Linked DNA regions of Homo sapiens: regions 2, 3 and 4 are each linked to region 1. The links come from fine-mapping of genetic effects on gene expression. A gene starts in region 1. Each other region holds a variant in brackets. All regions are shown on one strand. Distances are between the middles of the regions.

What was found. PIP is the estimated chance that this variant, and not a neighbour inherited with it, causes the effect.
Region 2: its variant is fine-mapped to the expression of NAV3 in spinal cord (GTEx, PIP above 0.99).
Region 3: its variant is fine-mapped to the expression of NAV3 in whole blood (TOPMed, PIP above 0.99).
Region 4: its variant is fine-mapped to the expression of NAV3 in whole blood (TOPMed, PIP above 0.99).

Annotation. Positions count from the first base shown.
Region 1 is chr12:77,827,797-77,835,908 of GRCh38, forward strand. It overlaps NAV3 (neuron navigator 3), which reads left to right and starts at 3,098. Exons shown (of 40, transcript NM_001024383.2): 1 at 3,098-3,908. The coding sequence starts at 3,666.
Region 2 is chr12:78,174,438-78,182,549 of GRCh38, forward strand. It overlaps NAV3 (neuron navigator 3), which reads left to right. Exons shown (of 40, transcript NM_001024383.2): 25 at 869-990; 26 at 2,002-2,022; 27 at 2,704-2,876; 28 at 3,183-3,248; 29 at 5,092-5,245; 30 at 6,434-6,608. Among named protein-coding and RNA genes, the nearest start is that of LINC02424, 180 kb to the right of the region's middle. The variant T/C (reference allele first, on the strand shown) is at 3,273.
Region 3 is chr12:78,002,924-78,011,035 of GRCh38, forward strand. NAV3 (neuron navigator 3) reads left to right here. Exons shown (of 40, transcript NM_001024383.2): 8 at 3,496-4,522. Among named protein-coding and RNA genes, the nearest start is that of NAV3, 180 kb to the left of the region's middle. The variant G/A (reference allele first, on the strand shown) is at 4,181.
Region 4 is chr12:78,029,305-78,037,416 of GRCh38, forward strand. All of the region lies in intron 9 of NAV3 (neuron navigator 3), which reads left to right. Among named protein-coding and RNA genes, the nearest start is that of NAV3, 200 kb to the left of the region's middle. The variant G/A (reference allele first, on the strand shown) is at 4,820.

The DNA of each region.
Region 1 (8,112 bases):
TTATTTTTTTACTCCATTTTATAGATGATGAAACTGAGACACAGCAACTTCCAAATTCATATAACTAGGAAGTAAGGAAGCAGAGATTTGCTTTTAAGCAGTCCCACTTTACAGCCCATTGTCTGAACTATCAAACTACAAATCCTATAATTTACAGATCTTAAATTCTAGTTTTTAGAAGAATCAATTCGCTTAAATATGACTCTCAGACCTTTCCCTCTCCCTCGTGATGGTTTCAACATGAGTTTTGCATCCCCTCCAAAAACTCATGTTGAAATTTAGTTGGCATTGTGAATGGTATTAAGAGATGGAGACATTAAAAGGTGAGTAGGCCATGAGAACACTAACTTCATACATGGATTAATGTTATTGTGGAAGTGGGATTATCATGAGAGTATAATCCGTTATAAAAGCGAGCTTGGCCCTTTCTGTCTCTCTTATATGAGTGCTCTCTTGCTCTTCTGCCTTCCACCATGGGTAGATGCAGCAAGAAGACCCTCACCACATATGGGCCCCTCACTCTTATGCTTCCCAGCCTCCAGAACTGTAAGAAGCAAATCTGTTGTTATTTATAAATTACCCAGTTTTAGATATTCTGTTATAGTAGCACAAATGGACTAACACAGTGGGTTCGAGATGAATACAATCATCTATATTTTAGTAAGCACTCAGGTCACCATCACATCTGGTTTGTTGAACTCAGTTTGTAAAACCTCATTTTGAACTTCATCTACAAGGTATCAGTGACCGTAAGCTAATTTTTTACTTTCTCGGTGCCTTTGTCTCCTAGGTCTCAAAACGGTGTGGTTCTTTTAAGATAAATTGAGATGACAACTCCTGGCACAAAGCACATTTTTTATAGTAAGTTAGTTTGGTTTTGTTGCTTTTGGTGGTAGATATTACTGCAAAAAATTAGTTGACAGTGGCTACTAATACCATCTTATATTTCAGTCAGAGTGAAAGATATTGCCTAATATGCAAAAGGTATTTCAAAGTGAAAAGACATCTTATTGAATGTGAATCCTTTTTTTTCAATCTAATTGTTCCAGGAATTACGATACATTCTCCTCCAATGCATGTTTCCAAAATACCAATGAGCTCATTTGTAATTGGCAAACAGGAATTTTGTACTAGTATAATGCAGAAGTTGTGTAGCTTTATATACAATTTATTCTAGGCAAAGGGAAGCAGAATAGTCAGCGTAGAATTATAACCTTGGGTGGGCAAAGAAGCCCTCAGTTTGAATGTTGTATAGTCAGCAGGAGCCCTTTTGGCTCAGTTTTAAGAAAACTAAAAACAAAAACAAAAATGAATGCCTGCATCTGGGGCTTCCTCTTCAAAGGGGCATGCCCCTGGCCTTGTGCAGCTCTTAAATATTTGCAGTTGCCCTGACCCTGTACCCATTTCAATGGCAAGCCTACTGGCTTGGAGTTTGCCTTCCAACCGGATTTCTTCCACCAATTCTGGTTAAAGTGTTGCCAGCATTTATACCCAATTATTTTTTTATGTAATTCTGAGTCACTTCCTTGAGTGGTCCAAATTATTTTCTGAGGTGCCAATATTATTTTTGCTAGCAATATACTCCCAAAGTTGCATATGTTTTGAGTGAACTTCCTAGAATCAATTTTTCCCACAAGTTCTATTATTTAGGTGCTGTTTTGTTTTGCATTGTGAGGATTACAAGTTGCATATGTCTTATTATGAACTAAACCTCATTTTACGAACATGAACCTCTCCAACTCTGTATTACCTTATAGTTTCTGAAAGTTATAATGTGTTGAATGGTTTGCAAATTGCAAAATAACTTACTTCCTCAGAGAGATTATTTCATTTCTTTGATACCACTAGTGTTGTATTTGTTTTGTATTACCCCGCTGTGTAAAGCCCACTTGGGTTACTATTTTTAAAGCCTGCAAGACTTCTAACTTACATTTCCTGTCTTCTATGCTGCATCAGCAGAACATATACTTTTAGTTATTGGCTCTTTCATCTATAAATTACTGCTTCTTAGATAAAAGTACGTAGTGATTTAAAGACCTGGAAACAGTAGGCCAAAGATGACCATTTCTTCACTAAAGAAAGACATTTTCTATAAAAAATGGTTACGATTTAATAATTTCCATGATTCATTGTGTCTATACTAAGTGTCCACCACTCATTTTTCTAAGACCTTTGGTTGCATTATTACTAATTTTTATATTTGGTGTATATAATTGCTCTCTGTATCCATTTTCTGAGTGCAATCAGTTTCAGAACAATAATGCATGGTACATTAGATGTTTTCTTAAAAGTTTACCCCTTGTTTATTTAAAGTTCCTGACATGCTTTAACCAGAAATAGAACATGCTATGATTATATTAAAATAATTCTATGGATGGAAGCATCATCATTCATTCTCACTGAGTATCTGTTTGGACAGTTTTTAGAAGCTTGGGATTTTAAGTTGGACGTCATAAGCTTGAATAACAGTGTTATTTTCAACCATTTTAAAAGACAGGTTTACAAACTAAAATCATACATTCTTTCCCCCTTTCTAGCTTCATCATTTTAGTCAATTTTTTCAGTGTCTCCAAGTCATAGCTGTTCTTTCTATAAAGTGAAGAAAATAAATATGCCTATACTTTGAGTCATTCCAATGATTAAATGTGATAATGCATAAAATGCTTAGCTCCATAACTGCTTTGTAATACATTCCACATAAGTGTTAGCTTTGAATGTTTTTATAATCATGACTTATTAAATTTGGGAACAATGATTACTACATATTTAGTGCCCTGCTTCCTGTGTTTACTCTATTTTCATAACCTAGGCAGCTATGGTCCGATGAATGATTTAACTGCTTTAGCTAGTTGCACTATTGCATGATTTTAGCCTGATTTCATGGGATGCAACAGAATGAACATCGTGGCTCATGGCTGTCAGTAGTGAAAAATAGCTGGAAATCAGACAAACAACTTTATTGCTGAGATTGTTTCCGGGCTAAAAGTTCTTCCAACAGCTGTTTGTTTTGGCCATTAACATGTCCATTCTTTTTATTTTTTCTGAGCTGGGGGAAATACAATTTTCTTTAAAAAGAGAATGCAGGCTGGCTATTTCTGAAATCAGGAAGAACCCCTGTCCTTCCACTGTTGTGGTCTTTTGGCTGCTCTGACAGTTGGACTGAAGGGCTTTTCCTTTTGATTTTTTCCTCTTTTTCAATCTCAAAGTTCAGACTCAGACTGCTTTAGTGAGAAAAAAAAATAAGCAAAACTAAGAGCTCTTTAATCCTAAGAAGGAGCTTTGTAGCAGTTACCTTGAAGAAGAGTTTACTCCCCAAAGGAGTATTTAGTATTACTTAGATACTGAGTCACTGAACAGAGAGAGAGAGAGAGACAGAGAGAGAGAGAGAGAGAGAGAGACAGAGAGAGAGAGAGAGAGAGAGAAAGAGAGAGAGAGAGAGAATGAGAATGAATATGAATCCCAGCCAGCAAGAAAGAAAAGATACTTAACTAAAGATGCAGGGAAGTTTTGCCTCTTCCTGAAAATTATATTATTAGCTTTTTAAAAATCAGGATGACTGCTAGTTTTGTTTAAAGTATTTGTTCTGGAAATACTAAAGTTGGAGTCTACCAGACTGAGGTTAGAAGCATTTTCTTTGGCAGCAAGAAGATAATTTTATAGAAGCCATGCCTGTTCTTGGGGTTGCCTCAAAACTGAGGCAGCCAGCTGTTGGGTCAAAGCCTGTGCATACTGCTCTTCCGATACCAAATCTTGGCACTACTGGGTCACAGCACTGTTCTTCAAGACCTTTGGAACTTACTGAAACAGAGAGCTCCATGCTTTCTTGTCAGCTTGCGTTAAAATCAACCTGTGAATTTGGAGAGAAGAAACCCCTCCAAGGAAAAGCCAAGGAGAAAGAAGACAGCAAGGTTAGTTGCTGAAGTTACCTGCAGACTTGTGTAGCTAAAATGCACATTTCTCTTTAAGTGCACTATAAAACATGTTATGAAATGGGGAGTAGTAGAGGAATACCAGTGTAAGGATGTAAGTAGTTATAATGGCTGAAAAGCTGAATATTTAGCTTATGTAAACACTGTATTCTTAGTTTAGAGTTGTAAAAGTCATGATCAAAATTTTCTGAATATGCATCTATTGTAATCATTTAATACTACTTATTGATGAATGCCTAGTTAGTTCTAGATATTGCTCTATTACTAATAATCATAATCAGTCACAAATGTGAGAAAAAGAGAACCTATTGTCATCCATACTGCAATGTATGAAAATAGGTACTTTCAAAAAGACATTTATTTGTAATAATTCATATAGACACCATCACTTTTCTCTAAATGTCATTTGCATTTCAAAGAATTTCTGCTTGAAAATTTGTATCATAGGCTGCTTAATTCATTGCAGTATGAAGGAAAATGACATACTATTTTCCTTGATACTGCACATTTATATGGACTTTCCCTTGTAAACTGAAACGCTACTCTTTTACTTATTACTGACATCTTTTTCAGTCATTTAATTTATGATATTTTGTGAGTAGTTGCTCATAGCCCTTGGTTTCTAAAGCATACTACAACCGTTTTCTCCAGTCACGCATGCTAGAATGGCACTGAAGCTGCTGAACTTCATGCGGATTCATTTGTACCTTGATAAGCGTCACTTTTGTTTTGTGCATTTTTACTTTTATTGGTACATATTAGGTGTATATATTTATGGGTACATATTGGTGTATATATTTATGTGGTTCATGAGAGATTCTGATACAGGCATACAATGTGTAATAATCATATCAGGGTAAATGGAGTATCTGTTGCCTTAAGCATTTATCATGTCTTTGTGTTGCAAACATTATATATTCTTTTAGTTATTTAAAAATATAGAATAAGTTATTGTTGACAGTAATCATCCTATAGTGCTATCAAATACTAGATCTTATTCATTCTATCTAAATGTATTTTTGTACTCATTAACGATCCACACTCCCCCTACCCCTCGCCACTACCCTTTCCAGCCTCTGGTAACCATCATTCTACTCAGCATCACTTTTTAATGCAGCATTAACTATGATGTCAAGCTTTCCAAAGTCACAGCCTCGTCTCTGGCTTCTTAGGAAATATTTTCATTTTACTCTGCTATCCAAATGTTAGTTTAAAATAATTTAAGGAAAAAACCTTTATACAAAAATCAACTCTAGAAGTGAAAAAGAAAGCCACTCCTTTTTCTACAATGCCCATCCCACCTTCACCTGTTCAGATCCTTTAAGCTTTATCCCAGATCCAACTTTATTCATAAAGTCTTTGCTAGCTATCCCTTCCCCACCATTCCTCCTTCCCAATTCTTTTTCTGTAGAAATGCTTGTGTATTTTAATTATCTGGATAATTTCTTTTAATTATCTGGATAATTTATTTGTATCTCCACTAAGTTGAAAACATATAGAAGGCAGGTCTCGTATCTTATCCTGTGTTCCAGCTCTCTCCCTGTACAATGCTTTATGCATGATAAGAATTAAATAGTAGTTGGATGAATGAATACAGCAATTAATGAATCAATGAATGAATAAATAGTTATTCCGAGAAGGATTCAGTTAAGTTTGTTCATCTTTTGGAATCATTTCGAAACAGGAAATGTTTCCTTGTCCCCCTCACAGGGCATGTGACAGCAGGAGTGGCTTACGTCTTCAATGCCCCGCTGCTGAAACCTCTAGAGGGATCATGCAGATGGGCAGGGTGTGGAGCTTCGACCCTACAGCAGCATCTAGGGTTGAGTATTTACAGCTCCTGAAGCTCCAGTGGGCGTGTGTTACAGTGTGTTCTTTTAGTTTTGCAGTATGAAGGTGGCTTGTGTTAATCAGCTCAGTTAGACCCTCTGCCTTATTGCAAGGGCAGAGGGCTTTCTGTATTCTGGGTTCTCGCCTTGGTTCCGGAAAAATCGAGTCACATGTGGGCTTGGAGGATGAGTGCAAGGTTCTTTTGAATGTTGGAAGTACCTCTCAGCAGATGGATGGGGAGCCATAAGGCGGAAAGGTGATTTTCCTCTGGAGTTGGGCCGCCCAGCAGCCAGACTCTCCTCTGACCTCCCTGGCTAGATTCCCCTCGGGTCCATGTCGTTCTGCAGTCGATGGCCTGCCGGTGTCTGCAGGTGCCTGTCGGTGTCCTCTTCTGCTGGTGTGTTCCTTTCGACGTCCAGCCGCTTATGTGTTCCTTTCGACGTCCAGCCGCTTGTGTGTTCTTCCGCCAGTGTGTTCCTCTCGATGTCCAGCCATTTTTGTCTCTGCCTGCTAAGGTCTCGGGGTTTTTATAGGCACAGAATGGGGAGGTGGTGGGCCAGGGTGGTCTTAGACAATGCAACATTTGGGCATGAAAACATAAATGCCTGTCCTCACTAGGTCCATGGGCACAGGCCCAGGGGTGGAGCCCTAGCCAGGGACCCCATCTTTCTCTACACAGCACTTCCCTGCCCCCTTCCTGTATCAATTTTATGTATAAAACAAGGGGTTGGGAATGGATGATTTGTGGAGTTCTATGTCTAACATAGCATTGTCCATGTGAGAAAAATCAGTTAAAATAAAATATTTTTTATGGGTTTATAGTTCTCAGTTCAAAGTGAACAATTCAGAGTAAAAAGCAGGGAAACATAAATTATCAACAAAATACTAAAAATATTTATCTTTTTGCAAATAATTAAAAGAAATGCCATAAAATTCCATTCTAATCTTCTGTGTATCCACAAGTCTGTATGGATTCAATGGCAAGAATAGAGAGAGACACTGTCTCTGCTGACCATGGCTATCTTTTCTGTAGGTTTAGTGAAACTTCCACTTTGCTAAATGACCTTGGCCTAGGATTTGAGCACTATAAGCACTGTTTTCAATATAATTTTGGTTGATCTCTTTGGTTAGCAAACATATTAATCAAACATCTGATATCCCAATAAGCCTCTGTGGTAAGCAAAGTTGTATTTATAGGGATGTTTTCACCATGCCACTTATCAGATTAAAAATGTTTTCAAACAAATGTAAAGAATGCCTGGTCAGCAGTTCAGAATATTTCTAAATGTTAAAAAGAAGTATATGTAGAGTTATTTTAGCTTTTGGGAAAAAAAAAAAAACCCAGAACTGAAGTAAATAGCAAAATCGAACAAGGTAGTTATATTAGAGAGAATTAGACTTGGCTGCAAAAGCAGAAAAGTCAACATAACAATAGCATAAAGAAGATAGACGTTTATTTCATTTTCATGTAAAGGAAATCTGGAGTTGAGCAGTCCATGTATGGCTGGTAGGGAGACTTCAGGAAGTTGTCAGGGAACCAGGCTCTATTTTGGTTGCCATCATCGATTTGTGGCTCACACCTCATAGTCTTGAGTAGATAATTGCACTCCACTTAATTAAAAAGATACACCCTGTTTTATTAAATATTCTTCCACACTGGCCTCGTTATAGTTCCAAGGCCTTACCTTGCTCCAATGGAGACTGAAAAATGTAGTATTTGTTCTAGGCAGCCATGTGCTCAGCTAAGAATTATGGGTTCAATTTCTAGGAAAAGATACTATTGATAGTACCCACAATAGACGACTGTCATTAAGAAACATTTATGTGGGGTACTCTGCTAGTCCTTGTACCAAACAGTTTTATGATCTGGTTTGAGAGAACAAATTTACATATGACAGTGTCAGAAATGTGTGTTCAGTTGTCACTCCCTTCACCTGTTGTTTCAATTAGTGCAAATGCCATCATTCCAGTCATCTAATCCCGAATTCCTAGACTAATATCTGGTAAAGTACATCACCATTTCACATCCCATAACTTGCCAGAAGTTGAGAATTTTACTTCAGTATTATAGCTTGGGTTTATCTTCTTCTGCAATTGCTCATCCTTTGATGGCCTTTAAAGTTTCCTATCAATTATTTCAGTGATTCCAAATTGGTATCGTCTCCTCCTGTGTCTCTCTACCCACATCCATGCAGCATATTCACCATCCTGCTTAAGAAGAAAACTTTATTTGCTTCTCATATCTTATAATGTCTTCATTCAGGCATTCTTGTCTCCCAGTTGTCACTTTCTCTATTTCCGTCATAGCTCCATCTAGCTGCTACATCCCAGATGTCTTCTTCCTGGGTGTCCC
Region 2 (8,112 bases), 350 kb after region 1:
AAGGCTGAGACTGGCTCCACTATTTTTCAGCTATGTGACCATGTGAAAGTTACATTTAGTAATTAAACTCATTTCAGTAGTTTGCTTTAAGAATAAAATTAGGTACTCCGGGGGCATATCAAGCATATTGTAAAACCTAGTTTGATTATTATTTGTTATTGGTATTACTATTACTATTCTATAATAAGTCATGGGCAGGCAGTAGGGGTACATTGGAAGAATTGCACTGTCTTAAATATGTCCTCTGTTTAACTCACAAACTCAGTCTACCTAGGCTTTCTTTGGAGGATCTGCCTTTCATTGGCTGTTTGACTTTGGCCAAGTTACTTAACTTCTTTTCACTTCAGTTTCCTCATCTGTGAGATTATGTGCTTACATGACTTCAGGTTTTGTTTTGGCTCTAATATGGTATGATTCTATGAAATGGAAAGTTAATACATTTGGCTCTAGTAACTGTATTTGAAGCACAAATATTAAAAAGCACAATTAATTCTCATTCTGAGTTTCCATTTACTCTTTTAAATTAATCATTCAGAATAAATCATTTTGGAAGAGCTGCTTGATCCAGGTATTCAGTAGAAATCACTAGCATAGCATTTAATTTTAGACAAAACTGAGAACTCATTAAACTGCCAGGGCTATGGACTTATATGAGATTCTCATTAAATCTTAATGTAGATAACTCAGTTAATTAAAACAAATATGGTTGTACTTTATTAAACTTCTAAAGTCAAAACTGCATTGAAATTATCTGTACAAAGCCTTGTTGACCTTTATTAGAGAACTGCCTCTCAAAAGACCTAAAAGACTTATTTGTTCAGATCGAGACTCTTCATGAGCCGATGTGATACTCTCCCTCTATTGCTAGATCTTCGCATCAGAAGACAGCATTCCTCTGAAAGTGTTTCTAGTATCAACAGTGCCACAAGCCATTCCAGTATTGGCAGTGGTAATGATGCCGACTCCAAGAAGAAGAAAAAGAAAAACTGGGTAAGTTACCATCCTTCATCTAATTCAGAAGCTTATTAATGCATAATGTGTTAGGCCTTTTTCTTTGGGGCTTTAGTGATCTGCAGTAGTTTACAAAGGGTCCCATTCAAGCTACTGAGACCTCAAATGCTGCACTCATCACCAAAATTGGAGTGGCATGTACTGAAAAGCATACATTTTAATGTTGGGACTAAACTTGGGTTTGAATCACCACTATATCTAGACCTTTTGAGGGGCCTGAATTTTCTAACCAATAAAAAGACAGTTAATAGCAACTATATTTATTTGTGAATATCATTTATTCACAGATGTTATCTAATTTTTCTATAGTATAACTATACAAACTATGTAGTATAACTATAGAGTTATACTAAAGAAAAATAAGATAACATCTGTGAATAAATGGCTTAAAATAGGGGTTTATTGTGGGCATAGAGATGAAGGAAAAGTGAAAAAATGATGATGATGGTGATGATGATGGTGATAGTGGTCTTGGAGGAAAAGGAGAATGGGAGTTAATAAAGGGAAAGAATAAACAATGAAACTCTCATTCCACCTTTGGAATCGACAGGGCTTACCGTGTGAATAGTTTCACCCTAAAAGAAATCAACCACATTAGTGTCTGCTTGATGTTTTTAACCAAGAGAATATAGCAGAAATATAGAAATGCACTTTAACAGAACTGTACCTTAAGTTTGCTAGTGATATAATTTATGATATTGATCAATAGCTAAATAGCCCAGGGGAAGATACTGTTACTGCGAAAAATTTAAAAACAATGGAGTCAATGATTTCTTTTAATACCAAAAAAAAAATGTAGATTTTGAGTAAATACAACTCTTGATGAAATCCAGACATAATTATCAGAGGATTTTACTGGAGTGCTTTCTACAAATAATGAAAGAAATATCTTTTTATCTTAAAAAATGTTTATACAGGTAATATTTTAAAATACTGATCAGCCTTCATTCCCTTGATTTGTAATTCCACACTCTTTCATGTTTCTGCAAGGTGAACTCTAGAGGAAGTGAGGTGAATATAAACCGTGGACAATTTGGCATGCATCTATAAAAAAACCCTACCTTGGCATGAATGCTATCCATTTTGGCAGTAGGCTTTTATACCTTTTAAAACAGATTACCTTGTATGTCTTTTCTTTGTGTCTTTTCATTTTAATCTCAAATTTTAAAGAGATGTAAAACCACTTTCTGAATAGAGCTGTAGGGGATACCAATTCTGGTTTTGAGTAGTCTGGGGTTGGAAAATTTGAATAGAAAAATCACAATTAATGAAGTGTTAGGTGAATTTGATTTCATTTTGCTTTTTAAGTTTGTACTGTCAGCAGGACATGACTTGATTGTAGCGCTAAAGTGGCCATTTAAAACAAATTGCCTTGAAGAGAGAAGCATTGGGAATGGAGATCCCTTCAAGGTACTTAGTTTTAAATGAGTGCTCTGACAGCCATGCCCTTGACCTTGCACTATTTAAAAGCCTTCCATGTTTGCGCTGCGCTGGATTAATACAAGAATAAAATGAACACACAAAACACGGTATCATTTTTTTTTTAGAGATACTGTGCTGCAATTGTTAATACTCTGCTTGTACATACTGACCCCAGGCAGTGGCTAGGATGGCATCTGCAAACTAACGCCCCAAAGCAAAAGCTCTCCAAGTGCAAATAGACAAGAAGGGTAATTTCTGTCCTTGTTTCAGCTGAGAAGTTCTTTCAAACAAGCCTTTGGGAAGAAAAAGTCCACCAAGCCTCCTTCATCACATTCTGACATTGAAGAGCTTACTGATTCATCCCTTCCGGCATCCCCCAAGTTACCCCATAATGCTGGTGACTGTGGCTCAGCATCCATGAAGCCCTCACAATCTGCTTCAGCGTAAGTTGCTCCTTCTGCAAAATGCAGACATATTTTTTAAAAACAATTTTAGATGAAGGCCTTATTTATGTTCTAACCATATCTGTACCAATTATTTTCAGATTTTTCTGAGAATGATGGACAGCATTAGTTTCTCTTTTCATATTTCTCTTTCACTGGTTTCTTTCATTTTCATTTTTCTTTTTCATTTTCATATGTTAGAATTCAAGTGTTTCTTGATCTCATTCTCCAGTTTTCTGAATCATGATTCTCACTTCTTTTCATGGGCATTTGTCCATGTATCTGTCTAACTGTATGTACATACAGGTCACCCCTTGTCTGGCCACCAAAGAAACGACAAAATGGCCCTGTGATCTACAAGCATAGATCTCGGTAAAGTGGAGTGCGATGCATGAA[T/C]ACTGCAAAGATCCAGGTTCTAACCTAAGTAGTGTTTGCTTTTGCTTTTTCTAAAATCACTCACATGCATTTCAACAATAAATACCTTCTCTTTCTGTTTTTTCAACTAAAATTTGGTTTCCTAAAATCAACCTGCAATCCAGTTTTCTTTGATTCTATTAGTTAATCTAACCTAGCATTTTTATGATAGCCCACTTTTTGGTAGTACAGTAGCCCCCCGTTATCCACCAGGGGTACTTTCCAAGACCCCCAGTGGATGCCTGAAACCATAGATAGCACCAAGCCCTATGTATATTATGTTTTTTTTTTCTATACATGCATACCTACATATGATAAAATTTAATTTAAAAATTAGGCACAATAAGTGATTAACAGCAATAATAGAACAATTACAACAATATTTTCTGATAATAGTTATATTAATGTGGTCTCTATCTTCCTCAAAATAGTGTTTTTTTTTTTTTTTTTGAAACAAAGTCTCACTCTGTCACCCAAGCTCGAGTGCGATGTCAAGATCTCGGTTCACTGCAACCTCTGCCTCATGGGTTCAAGCGATTCTCCTGTCTCAACCTCCTGAGTAGCTGGGTTTACAGGCGTGCACCACCACACCTGGCTAATTTTTTGTATTTTTAGTAAAGATGGGGTTTCACCATGTTGGCCAGGCTGGTCTCGAACTCCTGACCTCAAGTGATTCACCCACCTCGGCCTCCCAAAGTACTGGGATTACAGGTGCGAGCCACCCCACCTGGCCCAAAATACTGTAATATTTTTGGACCATGTTTGACTGTAGGTAACTTAAACCACAGAAACTAAAATTGTGGATAAACTATAATTGTGGGGGACTACTGTACAAGAACGAACACATTTCGAATATAGAAAAGTGTTCTGGTGAGATAATTCTCTGTGTTATTTACTATTTAAATCTAATTTCCTTGTATGCCCATGACAACAACTAGCATAGAACTCATATAGAACAGGGCCACTGTGCTTTGCCTACATAATTTTATCATTTATGCAGAAAGGAAGAACATGTCACTGTCATTTTGTGGCCAGTAAACTAGTTGTCAAATTTTAAATGGAAAATATGTTAGTTAATATAAAACAATTTTTTTGGCAAATTTCCTGCGAAGCTGTCCACAAAACAATAAAAACACAACAAGGATACAATGTGTTTCCTTCAAACAGCCCTCAGCTAGCCTGCTAACAGGGGCTGAAACCTTTGATTTAGCTGTGATCTCCTAAATCAGCTGAGCCCAGTAGGGAGGTTATATAACTCACCCATTATTTAAATGTCCAAAAGTAATATCTCTAATTTATTTTCTACAATGTTTATATTGGATTTTTATGGTAATTAAAGACAGTATTGTGGCAAAGCTTTTTTTTTGCACAATTTTACAAAAGAAGAAATCAACATTTTAAGAATGTAATAACTGCTCTTATAAAAGAATAGTCACATGTTGCAAATAGAGGTTTAAGTCCCTTGAAAATGTTGGAATGAAATGTAGTAATCTATGACTTTTCTGCCTATAAATATCACCAATAAAAGAATTTTTAGGATTACTTTATATTCAGTAAGAGTAGACTATTTTTAAACTTTAAAAAATAGAAAAAAAGATTAAAAGAAAAAGCTACTTCCGTTTTGAACCTGTGAATGCATAACCGTTTGTAAAACTCCTTCTCCTTTTCTCTAGGTTTTGCCAGCAGCACACCATATCTGTACCTGCTGGAGAATATTGCAGTGCAGCCTTTAAAAGAGGCAGTGCTTTTCTTAATCCTCTGGCTTCCCCAGGCCACTGATTCTGTTTGTTTCCTTCTTCAGGATCTGTGAATGCACAGAAGCTGAGGCAGAGATAATTCTGCAGCTGAAGAGCGAGCTCAGAGAAAAGGAATTAAAATTAACGGATATTCGGCTGGAGGCCCTCAGCTCTGCTCATCATCTTGATCAGATCCGGGAAGCCATGAACCGGATGCAGGTTGGTACTGAAGCACTTTCAAGGAATAAAATGGAGAAACAAAAAAATGCTGCTTATTCTGTTCTCTTGGTTAACACAGAATAAATTCCACTTGGAAACCCACCTTAGAAATGTACTCTGTTTATTCAGTCTTTGCAACTCATCTGTTAGTACTGAATTGAGAATTTTGTCAAATCCAAGTTTGGAAGTGGGAGTGCAAACTGGCAAGTTGTATTCAAGAACCATTCAGGATACTGTACTAGTAATTGGATTCAGGTTGAGAGCTAAGCTTTTAGAGAAGCTACTACAATTCTTGCTTCTTCACTTTTCCATCATTTACTTTTATTTTGGCTTTTTGCCTGTTCTTTTGAAATCTGATTTTCACATACTTTCACCAGTTTTCTACTGAAATACAAAAGTAATGAGGAAACTATAGAAATTCAACACAAGCTTTCTGAATACAGAAGTAAAAGTGATTTAGAATGCCATCTGTAAAAGTAAGGCTTGTGTATTTTTTTGAAAAACATCTAAAGGCTAAATTCAGAACCAGTCTGTGCTCAGACTAAGTTTTCATTTTATTATTGTATACCAGTAATCACTTGGTACCACAGATGACTGCAATAAGAAAAGCTCATTGCTGAGCAGATTCATCTGCCACTGTATATGTTCATCTAAAGACTTTTGTTGTTTTTTTATGAGCTTAGTGTCCCGATTGGAAGGAAAAAAAGAAACTTTTTCAGATGTTAGATATGATTTTGGAGTAATTTTAAATCACCTTATTGACATTATTTTTGTTTTGCTCTGTCTTTCAACTGTCTACAGATTTATAACAATATTACAAATGGCATTATATGCTTATAAGATTTTAACATCACCTTTAAAATGAGAAGTGTTATGAATGATTTCATCATATTTTTCTTAATTCAAATGAGACCAAGTCCTCATGATTTAGTTAAAAAATAATGATAAGCATGTCGAATGGTTGGATTGTCTATATTTGTGAATTCAGGAATGTATAATGTGTGAGAGAGAAAAAGGTTAAATTTCCTTCTTGGGAAGGAAATCCTATTTCATATCTTATATTTCTTTATTTAACATATTAACATGTTTTATTTAACAAACAAGCTAATTAACTCTGATAAAAGACTTGGTGCTATTTTCTCAATCAAACCAACTCAGTTTTTTTCATGTTTTCCATCTTCATAACAGAATGAAATTGAAATACTGAAAGCTGAAAATGACCGGTTGAAGGCAGAAACTGGTAACACAGCTAAGCCTACTCGGCCACCGTCAGAATCCTCAAGCAGCACCTCCTCTTCATCTTCCAGGCAGTCATTAGGACTTTCTCTAAACAATTTGAACATCACAGAGGCTGTTAGCTCAGGTGATTTAGTGCACATGCTTGCCTGAATCACAGCATACCCATGAGTTAACGGGTGGGAAGCCTGGAATTTGGAGAACTTTACGTACTCTTAAAAATGTTACACTCTAATTCTCAGAAATAGTCCTAGTTTGATCTTATAAATCTAGTCTACTTAGTTATAATTTTAAAAGCACATTCTCTGTCCAAAAGTCAGTCTTAGAGATATGGTCTTCATAATATTTTTAAGAAATCACTTTTCCCTAGGAAGTACTTTCTCCATGATTCTGATGATGAAGAAATACTCTCAGTGATGATAATTAGTACTTATGGATATAATAATAACCCCAATGACTTTTATTAAGTGTGCAAAACCCATTTATAAGTGTAGCAGGCTTTATTTTCTAAATCTGACTTGATGAACCTGTGTGATGCTGCTCTGAGAAAACAATAATGCTACTGTCACCCAGTCTGCAGCTCTATTAAATTTCCAACAAAGATAAAGAACACAGTACTAGTGATGGAACAAGGGTACAGTTTTGATTTGATTGCAAATAGAATCATATGACATAATGTCATCTTAATATCTCATGAACCATTCAAGCATAAAGTGTAGCTGTTTCTGTGGAACAGTTCATTCAAGAGAATCATTTCAAGGATAGAGAATTTAGTCTATATAATATTTACATGAGGATCTATGGTAATTGTGAAGCACGGCCACCAGATGACGCTTGGAAACCAATAATATGTATGTTCCTAGCCAACGTTAGATTCCATTATAGAATGGAGATAGTACACTGCTTGCCTTAAATCATATTAAAATACAGAAGGAGAAGGAGAAGGGAAATGACATGGCATGCTGATATTGATTACATTTCCAATGAATCACATCTCTTCTAAAAAGACAGAATGTTAAAAATTCTGCTATTATGGCTGCTCTTCATAATATAAAATAATGGCCTTCATCTTATATGTAAAAGACAAGTGGGCACTCCCTGTAATTTAAGAAAACAACTTTTGTAAACTTCTGGTGGGGATTAGAGAAAGAAAATAAATTCTGAGAATAAGCATCAAGTACAACTAATGTCAGAAGCCAAGTAAAAAGCAAGAGATTTCAGAATTAAATGAACTTATAGATCATTAGGTAAAATAAGACTGTGGAAGTGGATGGTAATTTGAGTTTGTAAATTACACATAAAGTATTATCCACACTCAACAAAATATTCTGCAAAAGAAAGAACGCAAATGTTTAAATGTATAGAATCTGGCAGTTCTGAACAACATCCTCTATGTTGGCTTGTTGCTGATGGACCTGACAGAGAAGTGAAGTAAGATCTACATCTCATAATGACCAGTGCATTTCTGGATCCTCAGGCTTGTCTCCTAGGAAAAGACAAAGGCCAGTACCTTATAGGTCAGACTAATGGTAGGGTTTCACTGCCTTTTATAAAATTCTGTTTTATTTTATGAAAATATGATAAGGTTTGAAGGAGGCAAGTTTAATACTGAAGGTGGTTTAGAAAAAACA
Region 3 (8,112 bases), 180 kb after region 1:
GCACAAATATTGAGGTGTCCACAAAGTATATATGCCTGTACATAAATTACATACTGGCTGGTGAGTGAATGTAAGCTTCTCTAAATTGTACAACTCTCCACAGAGTGGCACTCTAATATTGCAAAGGTACAATATAAGCATGTGCAGAATGAACAGCTCTTCTAGGATCCCTATAAAACTCCACCCCATGTTTCTTTTGAGTCACTATAAAATTGATGACTGAGGCAATACACGAGCAATTATTTATGCAAAGCAGTGTGAGGAGGTGCATGAGGATCCACTTAATACCAAGACATATTTAGATTTGACTGCCACTTTTCTTCAACTTAATTTTTTTAAAGCATTTGGTATGTTGTTGTGGAATTAAAGTCCTAATTATTTATCAAAATAAGTGGCATAGCCACATTGTTTAATCATTTTCCTCTTTCCACCACGATCTGTGATGCTTAAAGTATCCTATATTCAGCAGGGACCATCTATATCAATGAGCACAATGCCTGCCATGCAGGAAATACTTCAGAAATGAATGGTGCTTTTGTCATCATTTTTGTTGTCACTTATTATATTTCAGAGTTGGAACCTAGTTTACTTTTGTCAAAGCAACGCACTATTCAGTGAGGAAAAAGAGATAAGCGATTAAGAATCATCTCTATGTCCTTTCTCAGACTGATACCACTCTTGGTAACATGGTGCTAACTCTACAGCTAACTGAGGTTCCAGAGAGAAATGTCCCACTATAAACTTTCCATATGCCTGTTGTGACTGCCACATTTACATCCATGTATTAATTTTAGAACTTGGTTGGCATTGTTCCCAAGTCATCAATATTGTTTATTTACAAGATGAGATAACTAGACATTAGTTCTGTGAATTTAGATGTTTTGCAAGTGTGAACGAATATCTATTCTCACATCAACTCAGAGGAACAGGTGCAAGTAAGATGCTAAAGAAGAAGGTATATAATACCTGAATAAAGTGTCTTGTGTGATGTTCTCCCCATTTATATCCTGCTCACCAAGGAAGAAGGAAAACAAGGAGTTACCCAATTAACTTGACTGTGCGATAAATGTGGCTTGCTGGAGAGCCATTTCAGCAGAATTTCTGGCATGCAGTAAACATGTGGAAAGAAGAGACAGTGAAAATCTTCCAAATGTTTGAGTCAGATAAAAATGAGTTCCAATTTAGATTTTGTTTTTTCTAAGTTTTGCCATATGTATGATTGAAAACAAATTATCTTTCTAAGTTTTCATTTTCTCATTTTTAACAAGAGAGATCATAAGCATATTGTAGATTATTATGGGTTTAAATGAGATACCATGTATGAAGTACTTATTATGTACTTGGAATAAAGTAAGCAGTAGATGAATAATATTATTTGGTTATGGTGGAGTTGGCAATGGTGAGTGTAGGTGAGGTATAAGAAGAGGAAGCAGAAGACAGGGAGTGGAAGCAAATTGCTATTTGGGGACCATAGACAAGAGGTAAGGCTGTAAGCAGAGATAGCCCATAAAAATGCAAGATACAAATCCATTTTTGGAATGCCTTTAAATATGTGCATTAGAAATCTGTTATTTTCCCCATGCTGAGATTCATTCATAGTCAGAAGTTGAGTAATCAACATTCAGAAATATGTCATTGAGACCAGGCTACTTATTCCTGAATATATAAATGGCAACGATTATAATTTGTGACTACATTCATTCTGTAGAAACTACAGGTGCTGCCATTTCAGCTGCTGTTGTGCAATCTTTACTGTGAGGAGTCCAGAGAGACTCTTATTATTCCAGTGCCTTCCTGATGCACAACAACCTATGATTTGCCCTCTTAATGAAATCTGAAGCATCTCATTGCCTCTGTATAGGGACAGGCTGTGGACAGATTTAGAGCGGAGCTTCAGGAAGTATCTTATATGTGTGTACTCGCCTGAGAATGATGTTACAGCTGCTGTTATGACTATTACTGTGGGTTGGATGTGGATGTCATAATTCAGAGTCCCTCTTGTTTCAGTTTTGGGTGCAGTGATGTTGAAATTCCTCTTCTGTACTTGAACTTCTATAGCAGTCTTCTAGCTAATGTCTTCAACTTGTTTCTCTTTTCTAAGGAAAGAGCACCTTCTCTTATGTCCCTTGTTCATCAGCCAGTTAAAAAAGCATCCTGACTGGTTCTTTTCTACCCTCTCCGATCAACCCCACCGAAGCTCCCAGGCACACTCTTACTTCTTAACCTAGTTGTAGATGCACAGAAGATACATAACAAGTATGTGGACAAAGAGATGAGAAAAAATGACATTAGGGGAACCTGAAGAGTTTATTTTGGTTTTAGAGATTATTTGAAGCAAACTGCTAAACATCCAGGTGAACTCAGAGCTAGCCAAGGTTCTGAAAGTTCAGTAAAAAATGTTAATATTGCATAGCTATGAAACATTTAATGAATTTAGCAATTTGGGGGACTGTGTTAAGAAACAGCCCTTTAAAACTGAAAAGGCCAACAGTTTTCAGAATTTGTGAGTCTACTCAACCCTTGCTACTCAAAGTATGACTTGTGTGTGAGCAGCAACGGCATCATTCAGAAGATTGTTGGCAATGCAGAACCTCAGGGCCCACTGCAGACCTGCTGTATCACATGTGCATTTAACAGGATCCCCAAGTATCATGTGTGCACATTAAAGTTTTGAGAATGACTGTGGTAAACACTTAGAATGTTTGACATTCCAAGAAAATTATAGAGCTTGGGCTGTAGAGTGACAAGATGTGGGGTCAAAGCCTAGCTCCACCATACACTCCTCATTAGATACCTAAATCATTGAATGAAGCTTACTAAGCTCTGGTTTCTACAAATGGGAATTAGGAATATGAGCCCTTCCCACTTCAATGGGCTGTTGTGAAATAATGCAGTTAGAGAACCTTCAATAAAATGTCAGTTAGCATAATTATATTTGTAATAATTATTCATATTATATTCATTATAGAATAAAGCGAAATATCATAAATAACTTTTTTTTTTGAGAGAGAGTCTTGCTCTGTCATCCAGGCTGGAGGGCAGCAGTGAGATCTCAGCTCACTGCAACCTCTGCTTCCCGAGTTCAAGCATTATACAACATATTTTTATAGGGCAAGGTGGAATATCCATTTACTAGCATGGGCTACAGTGGTGGTTGGAAAATAACAAAGAGAATTGCTTAGAGGAGGGATAGTGTTTTGTTCATCTTTGGATATCTGTGACTAGCAAATTTATTTGGGTAAGAGTAATTTCAGAGGGGAAAATAAACACGTCCCCCCACAGCCCCCACCCCAGAATCAATGCCTCTCAAACACTCTGCATTTTTGAAATATGGTAAAAAAAAATCACATCAGAGAAGTGATTGATGCTGCAGTCTCTTTTCAGTTCAGAGGAGAGAGACTTCTATCCATCAATAGTTTGGAAGTTCTCAATTATGTAATATAAATGATCAAGATTAATCGCCTTTTCTTTATTTTTCTTCTAAACAATGTCCAGATTCCTCCAAAGGACCTCAATCGTCTTCAGGTGTAAATGGTAACGTGCAGCCTCCCAGTACTGCTGGGCAGCCTCCTGCCTCTGCCATCCCTTCTCCAAGTGCCAGCAAGCCCTGGCGCAGCAAGTCCATGAATGTCAAACACAGTGCCACCTCCACCATGTTGACTGTAAAGCAGTCAAGTACAGCCACCTCCCCCACACCATCTTCAGACAGACTGAAGCCACCTGTCTCAGAAGGGGTCAAAACTGCTCCCTCAGGACAGAAATCCATGCTTGAGAAATTCAAGCTAGTCAATGCCCGGACTGCTTTACGCCCCCCGCAGCCTCCCAGTTCAGGACCTAGTGATGGTGGGAAGGATGATGATGCCTTTTCTGAATCTGGTGAAATGGAAGGTTTTAACAGTGGTCTGAATAGTGGTGGCTCAACAAATAGCAGTCCCAAAGTGTCACCTAAGTTGGCCCCTCCAAAAGCTGGAAGCAAAAATCTCAGCAATAAAAAGTCTTTGCTACAGCCAAAGGAAAAAGAAGAAAAGAACAGGGACAAAAATAAAGTTTGCACTGAAAAACCAGTCAAAGAAGAGAAGGATCAGGTGACAGAGATGGCTCCAAAAAAGACCTCCAAAATTGCAAGCTTGATCCCTAAGGGCAGCAAGACAACAGCAGCTAAGAAGGAAAGCTTAATTCC[G/A]TCTTCCAGTGGTATTCCAAAACCAGGCTCTAAAGTTCCAACAGTAAAGCAAACCATTTCACCTGGCAGCACAGCAAGCAAAGAGTCTGAGAAATTCAGGACTACCAAGGGGAGCCCTTCCCAGTCCTTATCTAAGCCTATAACCATGGAGAAAGCAAGTGCTTCTAGTTGTCCTGCCCCTTTGGAAGGAAGGGAAGCTGGCCAAGCTTCTCCTTCTGGTTCCTGTACCATGACAGTGGCACAAAGCAGTGGGCAGAGCACAGGAAATGGTGCTGTCCAACTCCCTCAACAGCAGCAACATAGCCACCCGAATACCGCGACAGTGGCACCATTCATTTACAGGTAAGGTGGCCTCTGTTTATCCACAGTTGTAAATATATTTACAGGCCTACATACTCAGAGTGTAATAGGGAAGGCTGATAAAGTGGTGCTTTATGTCGTCATTTTGGAGTAAAGTTTCATGCTAAAGATAGAGGCCTAGAATTCAGTGCGGAATCTTAGTCTGGAAAAAGACTTCCAGTAGGATCTAGTTTTATTCCCTCTCTCATTCCCTGTCAGCAATTGAGACCTTCAAAAATTGAATTACTTGTTATCAAAAGCCAGCTAGAAACCAGATGCCACAACTTTCTCTTGTGTTTATTCATATTATTGCTACTACTATACTGCTTCTATTACTAGCGGCAGACTTTTAAAATAATTCTCACTTTTACATCGTTTACGGTTATTTTTGTTGTCATCTTTGGGAGAAAGTATACCATAATGGTTAAAGAGGCAGCCTCTGAAATGATAAAGTTGCGGATTTCATTCCTAGTTCTGCCACTTTTCAGCTATAAGACATTGGGAAAGTTACTTAACATTCTTTAGTCTCATTTTCTTCAGCTGTCAAATAGGAACCATGCACTACTTTGTAGAGTTGAGACTATTAACAGAGGTCATGCATATAACATGTTTACTGTATATCCTGATGTGTTGCAAATGTTCTTCAAATGTTATTTATAAGATATTACTTTCTCAGTGTAAATTTTATATTAATTTCCCACAGCAAGGCATAGGTTTCTAGGTAAAAGGGGTTACATATATAATTTGTATTACTTATTTGGGTTGTATTACTGATTTGTTTTTTTTTTACCTTTTATTTATTTATTGTTTATTTTACTTTGCATTCTTATTTTGTAGGCATTGAAATACACAATATAAAATTTTTAAATGCATTATTATGCATTTTAAAATATGCATCCTACCATCCAAATGGTAAAGACAACACTTTGCTTGTTGTTCTGTGATTTGTTTTAATCGATTAGAGATATGTCAGTAACTGCTGTGTCCCCAGTTTATTCACTGCTTGGTTGGTAAGGAGATGGCCTGGGGAGCAATAATGTCTGCTTTGTCCCTCTTTCGGGCAGGTTGGCAATTTAACTACAGAAAGAAAATTTTATGAATAGGAAGCAGGACCCACTATAATTAAGAAAGGGTCAAAACTATATAGTTTAAAATTTTATTAAATTTTTTGAATGTAAAAGTTTTTAAAATAAAGCAGTTTATACTGATTTATTTTTTTGCTCAATGAGGAATGTAAGTGCTTTTTTTCTGAGGTTTTTTATACACTCAGCAAAACAAAATTATTATAATTATTACATTTAAGCTCTTGGGACATTACAATTGAATGTTGCTATTCTGACTTCAATAGTACTAACTCATTTAAAATACTTGTATTTGGATCAGATGGGAGTCTGCAGCTCCTTCTGACTCCAGGGTCCCTGTTTGACAAAGCAGAATTTAAGATGTCAAAATCATGATCCACATTTCAAAAACGTGAGAAAAAAAATCATGAAGTTTTAAATATGTCATACTCAGCACACTTTTGGATTACAAATATATTCTGTAAAAACATCAATCCTTTCAAAAAATCACAAGTGAATTTCATAGGAAAGTGTAAATCTAGAACTGCTAATTTAGTAGGCTTCTTTCTATAAGTAGCAACAAGCTTTTAAAAAAATTGTTTGCAATAAAATATCCAGTGGAAACAAATTTAGTGGTTTCCATTTGAAAATGTAACTTTTAAATATCAAAAACAGGAAGCAGCACAGCAGCACAGCTTAGAAGTTACAGTGTGGATCCGCTGTGTGAACCTGATGAGTTCTTTGAGAAACTCTTTGAGTTTCTGTTTGACCTCTTTAACAACAAGACTATAAAAGTGAGGCAGTGTAGCCAAGTAGCTAAGAAAAGAGGCATTAGAGAGGCTGAAGCAGGAGGAGAATCGCTTGAACCCAGGAGGTGGCAGAGGTTGCAGTGAGCTGAGATCGTGCATTTGCACTGCAGCCTGGGTAACAAGAGGGAAACTCAAAAAAAAAAAAAAAAAAAAAAAAAAGAGAAAAAAAGGGCGATAGAATATGTCTTACTCTACCATTGTTCAGAAACAGCATCTTGTGGTGGTGGTTGCCTAGGTGGGAATCTCAATGCCACCACTGATCAGTTGTGTTACTTTGGGTCATATATGTAAAGATTCTGACCCACAATTTCCTAATCTGTGAAATAGGTATGATAATTGTAGAAGCTACCTCATTAGCCTATTTTGAAGATTGAGTTGATATTTATCTGTAGAACAGTATCTGCCACATAGTAAACAGCCTTCCCTAAACTTCACTTTCTAATCCTATAAAGTATGATTGATAAAGGATGCCTACCTCGATTGATTGTATGAAAGATTAAAGAAAATAATCCCATGTAAAATTTTTAGCACACAGCCAGATTTTGAGCAAATTACATGAATATCAGTAATTATTTTTATTATTATCAACAATATAAGATAGCTAAAAATAAATGAAACTATGGTTGGCATGGTGGCTCATGCCTGTAATCCCAGCATTTTGGGAGGCCAAGGTGGGAGGATGACTTGAGGCCAGGACTTTGAGACCAGCCTGTACACCAGAGCAAGACCCTGTTTCTACAATAAATAAATAAATTAAAACTGTCTCATAAAATTTCACATTGAAGTCTATATATAAAGTAATATTCATTCAAAGTTTTTAAATCAATGCAGAACAATTTTACAAATAATATGTAAATCCTCAAAAGGCAGAGTGGTTAATATTCATTCTTTTCAGCTTTCAGTAAAAGCTTGTTTATAGAGTCATGACATTTGGATTATGTAACCTTTTATGTTCTTTCTGACTTTCACTGTTCTATCCCCATGTAAGAATCCCTCCTATAAAATCCCTGACAATTATTTTTGGAGTTGCTAATCATTTGATGAGATAAGACTAATAATTTACTTTTTGATGTTGGTATTATCATTTGTTGAGTGCTTACTTAGTGAAAATCTTTGTGTCACAAAATATATGTGAATTTTCTCATTTAAACTTCATCATGAACTCATGAGAAAAAATGTCATCCCCCATTTTCCAGAAATGAAGAAGCAGAGATATTAAGTCAGAATAGTAATAATCTCTTCAGATCATAAAGCTAGTAGAAATTTGCTTTGCTTATCAGTTCTATCTATGTGACAGAAATAAGAGGTATTGTTACTGAGAAAATTCTGGTTAGGAAAATGCCAATAGTACACTTGCAAAATTCTCAATCAGAACTCATTTATAATTGAAAATGGTAATTGCTGTTAATTAGTATAAATTATATAAATGTATACAGATACATATATATATGATATGTAAATATAATTAAATAACTTTTATATAATGGGAAGATTGATGGCTGATGGTGACTTTTTTTCTCAATTCTAGGTCAGTACTTATTCCTTCTGAGACTTCAATAAATGCTTCATAGTACTCTTTGTCACACACTGGGTGTTCAGAGTTCTATAAATATAATGTGGATTCTGGAAGTTAATAGATTTCCTATTAGCCTAACTTCCTATCTAATATAAATTATTCTGTACATAGTTTCAGTAATTCAATTATCTCTACAGAGTGATAAAG
Region 4 (8,112 bases), 200 kb after region 1:
AAATGGTGCTGAATTCAGGTGACTGTGATAATAGCAATGATGAAGATAACAATGTTAACACTGCAGAAAAAGTGCCTAGAGACAACATGATAGAAATGCATGATGATCTTAGTGAAGAACTAGAGCAGTGTACATTCATTACAGAACAATAAATTATGCCAGTTGATAAAAATCAGAGAGATTTCTAAGACAAAAACTGTTGTTAATGAAGCAGATGACTCTGGGGTAAACATTTTAAAAAGCTACACAGCAGAATGCCACCTCATCCCTAAGGGGCCCACTTCCCAGTCCCTCAACTGCTTCTGATGTTTCTTCTCACCTAAAAAAAAAATACAGTGTACAGTAACCTTTTAATCCAAATACAGCATTGAATGTAGAGATGGAAAGCTTGTGGTTGTTTGTGGTTGCTGTTGTTTCATAGCTGATACAGGTATTCTGGCAATGCTACTGTGCTGCTTAGTGACCTTGAACACATTATTTTTTCACTGCATTAATGCTATGTCATATTTTTTATTGGTAAGTACTTATGTATAAATAATTGCAATAAAATAATTGCCTATTAGTAGCATATAAATTCAGTCAGGAATGATGGTGATGCCACAAAACCACAGATTGTACAATCCTGTTAGGTGACTGAGATAGAGACACCTTTGATTTCTGATGGTTCAATGCACATAAACTTTGTTTCATGCAAAAAATTTTTAAAAATGTATAGAATTACCTTCAGGCTATGTGTATAAGATGCATATGAAACATAGGTGAATTTTGACTTGGGTCCCATCCCCAAGATATCTCATTATGTATAGGCAAATATTCCAAAATCTGAAAAAATTCAACATGCAAAACACTTCTGGTCCCAAGCATTTCTGATAAGGGATATTAAGCCTGTAATAGAATAACCCTATAAAAGAATGAACCTCTCAGAATTCTAAAGCTCATGAGATGTTTTCTATATTAATGATGCCTCTCTTTCTCAGAATCTCCATCCTTTATTGGCTTTCATCTTTCTGAGTTCTGGATGCTAGTGAAACCACAAAGCACTAAGCACCTGAATTTATTGCCAGGTCCTAGCTCAGACTGGCCCACAGAATACCCCTTCCAAGACTGTTTGAAATGTGGAAAGAGAAATGTTCTAGGAATTGGAAAAAATAAATTTTGGCTTCAGCACTGCAATTATTTAGCGATTATTTGGCCTCTGCACTGTGAATTGCTCCCTGGTTCCCTTTTCTGTGTGGTGAATATGATGATACTTAATAAACTCAGAAGATTGTTGTGAGGTATGGTATTATTCCTCCATCAGTCTTTTCAGTAATTATCACCTGGCATCTTACACATGCCAGACATCTCAAAATTTGGGAAAACAAATGTGACTAAGAAGTGAGCTCTCCTTTGAAAAAGTAAGAAACAAATAGATAAAATTTAACACCACAAATAAATGAATAAATAGGCACATGGAAACAACTAACTTAGCTGTAAAGAGTCATGCAGAACTTAAAAGAAGATCAGACATGCATATTGTAGAATTCTAATGAACAATGAAATTGTGGAATAACATGAAAATAATGGGAAACAAATTCTTCTTAACTTACTCTTTTCATTAGTTTCTTTTTGTAAAATTGGGCATTTCTCCTAAACTTACTGAGGTTTCGATAGTTCTCTGATTTTCTGCAACCCCAAGCTTCAACACTATTGTTATTGTTGAACTTTTATTGCTCATGGTTGCTGTAGGGGCCTCAGTGAGGAATAATTCTGCTTCCCAAGTGAAGTGGCCTTCATGATACAGAATTCTGAGGAAGTTAGTCTTGCCAGGGTAAGATGCAGGCTTTATAAATTTGTGAAGTCTATATAACATTCAGAGTCCTGAAAATAGTACAGAAAATAAAATGTATAGTGTCTAGAAAGGGGTTTAGGTGAGTTAGGAGTTCTATAGCTTAAGCTCTATTGCTGTGTATTAAGCCTACCTGGAAGTACTGGTGTCGTTTTGTGTGTCTGGTATCCATTGCCCCATCTTCTGATAACAGCACCTTGATTTTCTTTGGGGAGAATTCTCTGCTCATGTGATCTAACTGAAATTGATATAAGTGGAGCCAATGAGAACAATCTATTCATTGACTGCAGTGACTGTTTGAGGACTGGATGTGTGACCCAATCAAGTTTGATCAGAACAAATAAGACTCAATCTCAGGACTTTTCCTGAGGTTGTTATAAGAGAAAATGTGGCACATATACACCATGGAATACTATGCAGCCATAAAAAATGATGAGTTCATGTCCTTTGTAGGGACATGGATGAAATTGGAAATCATCATTCTCAGTAAACTATTGCAAGAACAAAAAACCAAGCACCGCATATTCTCACTCATAGGTGGGAATTGAACAATGAGATCACATGGACACAGGAAGGGGAATATCACACTCTGGCGACTGTGGTGGGGTGGGGGGAGGGGGGAGGGATAGCAATGGGAGATATACCTAATGCTAGATGACGAGTTAGTGGGTGCAGCGCACCAGCATGGCACATGTATACATATGTAACTAACCTGCACAATGTGCACATGTACCCTAAAACTTAAAGTATAATAAAAAAATAATAATAATAAAAAAAAAGAGAAGTGGTCTCTTTTTCCACTACACCTAAAACTAACAAAAGAGAAGCTTAGACCTGCTAACAGTGACCTCCACCCTCAAATGAAACAAACATAGAGGAAACAGAACCTAAATCAGGAGAGACCAAATTCAAGGCCATTGTCGGAAATAACTGAGCCCCTGAAAAATCCATGTCTGAAACTATTTCTCCTCTACTTTTGAGTTATGTAACCCAGAAAAAAGTCTTTTTGTGCTTACACAAATGTGAAAATCATCCCTATTGCATGACCCACAGGATGTATGACATGTAAAGATTTGCCATACTATTAAAGAGCAAACTTGAGTGGTTCACATTGCAATGCAGATGTGTTAGAGGGATTTGCTAAGTTAGTTGGAGAGCTTAGCTGTTTAAATTTTCACCAATGCAGTAACTCACTTGACATTATAAAAACATTGTCTTTGCCATTAAATGGTAATGAAAGTTTAAAAAGGTAATAAATTATGGTTTGAAGATAAATATCAGAAATGCATGACACTCAATAAAGTAGAATACTGGATAAATGACTTTTTCAATTTGAATATTCTTCATAAGTCTTCAGTGCACCTCTCCAAAATTTTTAAGTACGTCACTTAAATTTGCTTTTGCTTATTATGTTCTTTGTGAAGAAACCTAGTTGTATTTACCCAATCTGATGATGGTAGCTCCAATAATTATTATAGTCAGGTGAAATGTATTATATAATTTCTGCCATTGAAGAAGTAGCTTATTGCTTCCTGCCTTTCCTCTAAGATTCATATCATGACCTCAATATTACAGTGCTGGCTGAATTAATGGTACAGATTTTACTGCTTTGGCTTGAGTTTTATTCTCACATTCATTGACAGAAAGAATTTGTCCTCAGAGGCCATCCCTTTCATCATCTTCCAAGTGATTCTGCCAAATGTAAAGCGAGCCCAAATTTTCATCCCACTGGTACTCAAGGAAGTTTTTCAATTTTTCTTCTATAGGTTCACACTTGCCCTTTTTTTTTGCATAAGACTATCCACCAACATGTAACACATTTGTTTAATTCACTTCTTAACCTTTATCTGGAATTTATATTCAACTGAAAAATGTTCATAGGTGCTGGACTGGCTCAATATCAATAAAGCTGGCATGTCATTTGTAAAAAAGTAATATTAAAATTATTGGTTGAATTCAGGAAACCATTTTAGAAATAGAAGAATTTAGGTTAACCAGAAGGATAAGCGAATGGTTACATGTGCTTTTACTGACTACCAGACTTTGTATTAAAAGTGGGAAATATCTGACATTTACAATCTCTGTAAATGATCACTGAAATTGCCCTTTTTTTTTTGAATGTTTATAAAGATCAAGAAGATCAAGCTCAGATAATTCAAATCAGTTTAGGTCTTTTACTTAAATAGCCACATTATAATTATGTTTACTAAAGAGCTGAAAAGCATTCCTTTCCAGCACATTATAATAGCTATAACTTATTTTAGGTCTTGGCGTAATTAGAATGATTCACATTTTTCCTACTGACTGGGTGTATTTGTCTCCTTTGCACTGCACCTTCCTCCTCTTCCTTGTATAACATACATCTATATGTGTGAATACAAACAAATATAAAAACATTCATATATGAATGTACCCCCAAAGCAAGCAGGATGGCGCTCTCCAGAGAAGGAATAAGTGGGTTCCCCACTGTCGCTCAGAGTAAATGTGGACTGATGTAGTTCTGGGACAAACCTACTGTAACCACAAGTTAATAACAATATCTTTGAACAAAGAGACAGAAACCCCCTTTTGATAAGCCTTCTCTACAATCCCCTCCTTGCTGGCTCCATTGGACTGAGCCCATCCTTTCCAGGGTTCACCCCTCCAGAAGGATTAAATTTCCTGTCTCATTGAATCAGGAAGAACCATGTGATTTAATCTGACAAATGAAATACAAGTGGAAAAATGACATGGGATGTTCCTGAGCAGAAACTTAAGAGCCATTGCTTGGATCTCTCACCTCTCTTTTCCTTTGGTCATAAAATCAACATGTCCCAGACTAGGATTGCTCTTGTAGCATGGTTGTTAGAATAAAGAATACCTGAGAGAGAGCTGTAACAAACAGAGTGGACATTAATGTCAGCAAAATACATCTTTGTATTGAATGCCACTGAAGTTTCTAAACCATTTGTAAATGCAATATAACAATCTAATTCAGGATTTCCCAACTTC[G/A]GCACTGTGGACGTTGTGAAATGCAGAATTCTTTTTTGCATGGGGGTGGTTTATCATTGTAGGATGTTTAGCAACATCACTGGCCACTTCCCCTTAGATGTCACCACCACACCCACAGTTGTGATAACGAAAAATGTTTCCAGATATTGCCAAATGTCCCTTGGGGGAAAAACCATCCCCAGTTGAAAACCACTAATCTCAGCATAGTAGTTCTCAAAGGGGGTTTTCAGAGCCAGCAGTATCTGGAAATATGTTAGAAATACAAAGTCCCAGGACCCTCCGAGTCCAACTGAATGAGCAGTTATGTGGCTGGGGCACAGCGAACTGTGTTTTGATAAGCCCTCCGAGTGGTTCTGAACATATGAAGCTTGAGAACCACAGGTTTAAACTGATTGGTATATGTATAAGCAGTCTTGAATAAGGAAAGGGCATAAATATTGCTTTTATTTACAGATGAATAAGGTCAACTCATTTGATATATAAAGCATTAGAATTGCATTTTTTGTGAATCTGTAAGGCTTTAGGGTATATTAGCATATATACTAGTGTAACAAATGTTAAATACATTGAAATTTCATAATTTGAACAAATTTCACTATGGTCTCAGGACTTGGAAATTCACTGTGTCACAATAACTCAAAATGAAAGAAAAAAGATTTTCTACTTAGGAATTCTAAGGGGAGTGTCATTTTGGTCTTCCAAAAAATACTTTACAAAATTGTGTTTTTAGGAGCATAACTGTCAGTTTCAATTATCTGATATTTGTACTGTAATTTTATTTAGCACATTTTATATAAACGAGTAGTATTTAAAAAGTATAGAATTGAGAATGAGTATCAATAATTCACAGATTTCTTTATTGCAGAATTTTGTCACAAATAATTGCTGTTCTTTCCAGCTAATTTCCTTTTCATATCTATAAAATGGGTCTAAGTCTGATCTACCTTGAAAGGTGGGGCATAAGGAATAATTAACTTTACAAAGTAAGTGGTTATTATGTGTAAAGTTATAGGCAATGCATATTATAATGCTAATATATATAGTTATGAGATTGGGTATTTCCTCTATTGAGATTGGCAATAGGAGGTAGAAAATCACAATTAATTTTGCCACATTAGCTCTGAAAATGATGAAGATAATATCTCTGCATATTTCTCCATTTTCCCTCATTTGATAAAGGAGAAATCCCTATTTTTCTGTTTGTGAGCAGAAAATCTTCAGAAGTTAAATACTGAAAGGTCGATAGTCTTCTTAACTGTCAATGGTACCCATGATTTCTGCTATACTATATATTTGTTTTTTAAAGTTGTCCTAAAATCAGAATTTTGTGGTGGTATAGTGTACGTACCAGTACAAGGTAAATACAAGAAAATTATCTTTAGGTTTTCTGTTTTTATGAAAACATTAAGAAATAAGAGCTGATTATGCTGTGATAGGCTTATGAAATAGACCTGGAAAAATGCAATATCAAAAGACACAATGTGCATTTTGTGTTATCTGTAACATTATTATGTTCCACACACTTGACCATAAACTTTCAATTTTAAGCTTTGAGTCAAAATATCAAGGGAAAACCCTTTTGAGTTATTTTTTTCTTTCTATTTCCTTTTTGTTTTTACAAAAAGGCTGTAAGAAATCTTTATCATCACATTAGGATTTTAGGATTCAAAATAAGAAGGCTTTGACTTTGTTCTTTAAAAGATTAGGGAAGTCTTTCCCTTTAAAGCATTATCTCCTAGCGGGTGGAGAGTGTCATGCTTCATTTTTTAGGTCCTTTACACTCTTGAATTTGATTTGTGCTTTTACAGCACAAATCCCAACATTCAGAAGGGAGATCTGCCTGCTTCAGCTGCCTGCAGCTACAGAGAATTAGTCTGTCATTCTCGGCATCGGGGAGTGTGTGTTGTGTATGTGAGGGTGTGAGTGTGTGTCCGTGTTTGAGATTGGGTGGCTGAGAGTCATTTAAATGTGCATAAGGTTAATAGTGGAAGATCTCGTACAGGCTTGGCTCAGAAACCTGTGGCATTCTACGCTGGACAGCCGTTCCCGTGCCTCTGTTTTAATTTGGCAGGATGTTTGCTGCCATGGCAGCCAGCAGCATCCACTGCAGCAGCAAGGAAGAGCCATAGATCTGAGAATGCAGGTGGAATACTAAAATGTAAGAGGCTTGTGCAGGGCTGGGCGTCAGTGCTTAATTCCTGCTCTTCCTGGGCTCCTATGAGCAGGCTGTACTTGCTGCACTGTGTCAGCTCGTTAGAGTAAAGGGTTACAGACCTAGGTCAGTTAAGGGCTGGTGAAAGGCAGGGGAAAGAAAAAAAAAAGCAAAAAGCAAGAGACCTCAGCTCGTGCTTCACCTCCTGGCGTTTCGGGACACAGAAGCAACAGAGGGAAATGTGGACCCATCCTCCTGCTGAGACATGTGATTGGATGAAGACGGGCAAACGTAGTTGGCTTCCTGGACTACTTTTCAGCTGGAGGAGAGTCTTTGGTGAACTCTTTTCTGCTTCAGATATATTCGAGCAAAATATTTGTAAGTACTGCTGATTAGTAAAGTGATGTGTCAAGCTAAATTGGGGGCAAATAATTATATATACTATATCTCTAGAATCTTCTGTGAATGTGTGAGCTTGAGCTTTTATTGAAGTGCATGTGATAATCAAAATCAAATGGATCAGTTACAATCACAGTGTAACAAGACAATATGAAGTCCAATTGAAAGGAAGGAGCCACTGGAAGAATCATGCAGCGGCCTGCTGAACTCTCTGTGTTCCGGAGCAAAGAAGTAAGGAGAAAGGGAGCTTGCCTTCAGAAACAAAAGTCTCTGACCAATCTTTCCCTCACCAGTGATGGGGAGAGGAGACCCACGGTGCGCATTTCCAACTGGTTTGGAAATGCTGCCAAGGCCAGCCAGAGAGAAGCCAACTATGCAGAGCGGCGCTCACTGTCCAAGTTTCTCTCGCGGTCTGTGCAGTCCCTGTATCACACCAGCAGCTCAGCCTGGAACCTCCTGCCTGCTGGGGGCAGCCAGTCAGACAGTGAAGACTTAGAGGAATTGTCTGCAAGAAGAGGCTTGGAAGGTGAGAGTGATGAAGATAGTAGGTCTGAAGATGAAAACGTGTCCTCCAAGCCAAGCAGCATCAGCAGAAGCTGGGCTGAAGAGGAGGGAGAAAGCTGTTTGCGGGAAGGGACAGCTCATCTGGATGAGGAGGTGATCCTTACCATGCTGGGTGATCTAGAACAGGCACTTTACACTGACTTATTAGGTAAGTCCAATTTGCTCCTAAAAACGTGTA